Linked DNA regions of Homo sapiens: region 2 is linked to region 1. The links come from fine-mapping of genetic effects on gene expression. Tissue or cell type: spleen. Region 1 holds a variant in brackets; the other region holds the start of a gene. All regions are shown on one strand. Distances are from middle to middle.

Region 1 (2,682 bases):
TCAGGAATGGGAGGCAAAGACATGAACACAATCGCGGGAGGTGGTGAACATAAGGAAAAGTGCAAGGGCTTTTGGTTTTGACCCTGCACCCAGGCTCTGCTTTACCGATCTAGCTTCTGTATTTCTACTAGTTACACTTTCTAAAAATCAAAATTAATCCTGTCACTTCCGGTTATGATTAACATCCACTGGCTTTTGCCATTTGCTGGACAATCCGGAGCAAAGTCTGGGGCCAATCTGTTTAGTGTCACTTATTTTTCAGGTTTGGTTTCTTCATCACCTGTAAAGGAGAGTGGCACAGGACTATAATCCCTTGTCCGAAATCCTTGAGGCCACCCGTATTTCAGAATTCACAGCCTTTTGGATCCTAGAAAGGTGATACAGTGCACATGTGGTATATTACATAATACCACCAGCAGGGTCTGTGCCCCACCCTGGAACCAAACACACCAAGTGAAACAAATAAAGACTAAGCAACCTTACTTGAGGTCAGGTCATTTTCTACTAATGGAGTTACCAAGATACTTTTGTTTTCCAGAGCTTTTCAGATTTTTGGAATTGTAATAAGGCTCACTGACCACCCTGGCAGAGTTGTTTGAAAGCTCAAATAAGATATGTGTGTGAAAATGAAGCAGAAAGGATAACCACAAAGGGTACAGAGGCCCTGATCTTCTTGACTGGGAATGAAAGGAATTTTTCCTTTTCTGACATTGTGCATGTGTGAGCAATTTATAAAGGACACTCTCTGATAGCCTTTCAGAAGCCACAGCAGGAAAGGAATAACCTAGTTTAAAGGATGCATCCAGCAGCCATAAAAAAAAAAAAAGAATGAAATCATGTCCTTTGTAGCAACATGGATAGAGCTGAAGGCCATTATCCTGTCAACGAACGTAGAAACAGAAAACCAGATACAGCATGCTCTCACTTATAAGTGGGAGCTAAACAATGGGCACTCATGTGGCTTGGCTCTGTGTCCCCACCCAAATCTCATGTTGAACTCTAATTCCCAGTGTTGGGGGAGGGACCTGGTGGGAGGTGATTGGATCATGGGGGTGGATTTCCCCCTTGCTGTTCTTGTGATAGTGAGTGAGTTCTCACAAGATCTAGTTGTTTAAAATTGTGTAGCACTTCCCCCTTCTCTCTCTCTCTCTCCTGCTGCCA[C/T]GTGAAGAAGTGCTGGCTTCCAAGCACTTGATTTGGCCCTTCTGCCAGGATTGTTAAGTTTCCTGAGGCCTCCCCAGTCATGCCTCCTGTACAGCCTGCAGAACTGTGAGTTCAATTAAACCTCTTTTCTTCATAAATTACCCAGTCTCAGGTAGTTCTTTATAACAGTATGAGAATGGACGAATACGGGTACACATCAACATAAAGATGGAAATAATGGACACTGGTGACTCCAAAAGGGGGAGGGTGGGAAGATGGAAAGGGTTAAAAAGGTACCAATTGGGTACAATGCTCACTATTTGGGTGATGGGTACACTAGAAACCTAATGCCCACCAGTATGCAATATACCCATGTAACAAACATGCACATGTACCCCCGAACCTAAAATTAAATTTTTAAAAAAAGAATGCATCCTAGTGTGACTGGGGACATTTGCATAATCAAGGGCAATTCCCATAACTTCTTCCTTATCTTGATTTCTCTGCCTCTGTAGGGGCTGAGGCTGGGCTAAGCTTGGAGATGCTGGAACTCACAGTGATGGGGACCCTCACAATGGAGATCTGTTCTTTACTGTCATTCTCTCCATAACTGTGAGCTCTATGAGGCAGGGACTGGGCCTGTCTTGTTCACTGCTGGGTCTCTAATGCCTAGCCCAGCTCCTGGTGTTTGTCCAGGGTGGACACTTGTTTTACTTTTTGCTGAATTGAATTGAAACTGATCTCTTATGTTCCTTGTGACAGAAGGCAAAGTTGGCATTGTCTTAACTTCCATTGTTTTCATCTTCAGGGAAAAACCCCTACACCTGGGGGTCATTCTGCCCAACTCTGCCCTCTCTGCCTCTGCTCATTGCTCTTTATAGCTTCCCTCAACACACACACACACACACACACACACACACACGTGTCTCATTAAATGAGGATTTGGGTCCCTGGCTCATAGCCTTCTCCTTCATCTTATTCCTTTTCTTACTCATAGAAGACTTTGACTTTGTGTGGACAACCCAACTATAAATCCAGCCTCACCAGGGACTATTGCTACTCTAAAATGTTAAACCCCAATATCCAATCTGACTAAAACTTATTTCCTGCTATATTGAATTCAGATTTCCTTTAATCCTGGTTCCTTAACTTCTCTCTTTTGACTCAATTAATTACCAGCTATCTAGCATGGATCCCATAATTTATCATTTCAATCATTCTCTTGCCAGTACCACCTACAACATTCTTGACCCTTTGTTCTTCTTCCTCATGTACCCTATAAATCCCTAATATCTGTCTTTTCCAGTCCAAAATCCAAGCTTCTGGGTGTTGCTGGAGACAGACCCTAATTGGGGCTATTCCCAGATATGATCTCCAGTTTCAGCTTTTTACTCTACTTGACATATTGCTTTTGAGTTTCTTTTTTTGTTGTTGTTGTTGTTGTTGTTTTAGAGACAGAGTCTTGCTCTGTTGCCCAGGCTGGAGTGCAGTGATATGCGATCTTGGCTCACTACATCCTCCATCTCCTGGGTTCAAGAGATT
Region 2 (2,682 bases), 35 kb after region 1:
ACTCCTACCTGTTTCACCATCACTGCAGTTTTAAGAGTAACGAATTTGGGTCCCCTGGTGAAGTGGCCAGAGGCAGAGCTTCTGTGTGAACTATTTGGAGGGGAGGGGAAAGAACTCTCCCAGACTGCAGGTTCTGAAAGGAATACAGAGATGTCAGAGACTGCAGTTGCAAGAGAAAGCTTTTATAGGAGGGTGTAGAATTAAAGGACAAGAGGACTCTACATGTGGATGGAGGAGGGCACCCTGTCCGGCAGTACTGCAAGAGCAAAAGTTTGGAGGTGGGAGTGAGGTGAGTGCGTCTGCCGGCCAGAATTCTTGGGCCAGGGTGAGCAGAAAGGTTGGAGGCCAAGGGAAGGTGGGTGGTGGTGAACCTTATCCTGAAGTGTGCAAGGTGACAGTCAGAAGCTTAGAACTCCAGCCACGGGCCCTGCATGTGGCCTCCTAGCTGTAGTCTGTCCACCGAGATCGTGAGGATGCTGGTGGTTGAAAGAACTGCACCTCTGAGCAGGTGAAGAGAGAAGCTAAGGAGGGGTGATGGCAGAGGCGATGGGACAGGCTTTCTAACGATGAGGGGCTGGGGATCAACGCTCTCACGGAAGCTAAAAGAGCCCCAGCAACCACCCGCCTGGGCCCTGAGCTCTCTCCAAAGCGGGAGGGGATTCACTAAGAGGTTGCTCCCCTGGCATTGAACTCAGCATCCTATACTGGTCCTCACCATGAAGACCCCCAAGAGTGCTTCAGACCATTGCTTCTCACATTCTCTGTATAAAGACACTAATTTGTTTTTAGATTTCCAAGCATGTCACGGACCAATATGTTTGTTAAATATACTAAGAATGAATTGCTAGAAAGATGAAATTAAAAAGACATACACCGCCAGGTGCAGTGGCTCACGCCCATAATCTCACCACTTTGGGAGGCGGAGGTAGGTGCATCGCTTGAGCCCAGGAGTTCAAGATCAGCCTAGGCAACAAAGTGAGACCCCCGTATCTACAAAACTTAAAAAATTAGCCAGGTGTGGTGGCGCAGTCTGTAGTCCCAGCTATTCTGGAGGCCGAAGTGGGAGGATCGCTTGAGGCTGCAGTGAGCCGAGATCGCACCACTGCACTCCAGCCTGGGTGATAGAGTGAGACTCTGTCTCCAAAAAAAAAAAGGACATACATCATGCAAGTTTGGATTTTTGTTTTTAGATTCAACTGACGAAGTTACGGGATCAAACTGCTGTAGGAGCTGCCAAACGCTTCTCTCCATTTCTGGCCGCGGGGCCGCGGACCGCCCTTTAAGTAGCCCGTTTTATCCCTGGCAGAGGTGGAGCCTTAGGCAGGCCTAGAGACTTTCCCGGGTCCTCCAGGCCGGGGAACGCCCCGCTCGGAGGCCGGGCTTGGGCGGAGACTGCGCCGGGGCTGCTGAAAACTAGCCGAGGAGAGCCAGGGAGCCGGAGAGATCGCGCGCCTGCCGCCGCCGGAGCCTGCGAGCCGAGACCGTAAGCGCCCGGGGCCGGCCGGGCCCGCACTCCCCGGACGCAGACGCGGTTCGGGCTCCGCGCGGGCTCGGCCGCCGGGGTGGGCGGCGGGCCGGGGCGCCGAGGGGTCGGGGCTGCGGTCGGCCCGCAGGGGTGCAGAGGGACTTGTAGTTGGTCCGCCCCCAGCTCCTGCCCCGGCCAGGAGACTGCGCGTGCCGCCTACTGGGGGAAGGAGCCTGCAGGCGACCGCGGACTTCTCGCAGGGAATTCCGCGTCCCAGACTGTGGGCGGACGCCGCAGGGAGGGAGGCTCGCGACCCCGAGAGCGCACCGCGTCCCCTGGCCTGGGCGAGCTCTGCTTCCAGGGCCGTGGCTCGCTCGGCGGTGAAATGCACTTAATTTGTCACCCAAGTCGGAACACTGATTTTCATGCGCGTCCGTGTGAAGAGACCACCAAACAGGCTTTGTGTGAGCAACATGGCTGTTTATTTCACCTGGGTGCAGGCGGGCTGAGTCCGAAAAGAGTCAGCCAAGGGAGATAGGGGTGGGGCCGTTTTATAGGATTTGGGTAGGTAAAGGAAAATTACAGTCAAAGGGGGGTTCTCTGGCGGGCAGAGTGGGGGGGGTCACAAGGTGCTCAGTAGGGGAGCTTTTGAGCCAGGATGAGCCAGGAGAAGGAATTTCACAAGACAATGTCATCAGTTAAGGCAGGAACAGGTCATTTTCACTTTTGTGGTGGAATGACATCAGTTAAGGCAGGAACCGGCCATCTGGATGTGTAGGTGCAGGCCACAGGGGATATGATGGCTTAGCTTCGGCTCAGAGGCCTGACACTGATCACACCTTTTAGTTGAAATGCGCTTTCATCTCCATCTGCTGCCGCAGCCGCCGCCCGGCACCCCCTCGCTCTGGTCTCGGGATTGAAGGCCAGCCCTCTCCTCTTGTAGAACAGGAAACTTGCCCGGGAGTTCACCTTGTAGTTGAAGCCAGGGAATGTGGTCAACCTGAGCAAAAGCGCCGCGGAGACCGAGTGGCCGCCTGCCTCCCTCCCTGGCAGATGTCGGTTTTCTCTGAGCTTCTGGCTCCTTCCTTGCCCTGGCGGCTCCCGAGATCTTGGAGGTGGGGTGCCTAGCAATGTTGTAATCCTAATTTTGACTTTTTTTTCTTAAAGTTGAATGCCCCCTCCATAGCCCACCTCCCATTGTTTAAACTTCAGGTTCC

Evidence for each region. PIP is the estimated chance that this variant, and not a neighbour inherited with it, causes the effect.
Region 2: it holds the start of EPHX1, and the variant in region 1 is fine-mapped to the expression of EPHX1 in spleen (GTEx, PIP 0.98).

The regions. Positions count from the first base shown.
Region 1 is chr1:225,773,827-225,776,508 of GRCh38, forward strand. No RefSeq gene overlaps it. Among named protein-coding and RNA genes, the nearest start is that of SRP9, 2.7 kb to the right of the region's middle. The variant C/T (reference allele first, on the strand shown) is at 1,162.
Region 2 is chr1:225,808,687-225,811,368 of GRCh38, forward strand. It overlaps EPHX1 (epoxide hydrolase 1), which reads left to right and starts at 1,438. Exons shown (of 9, transcript NM_001136018.4): 1 at 1,438-1,483. RefSeq lists a silencer at 1,396-1,615.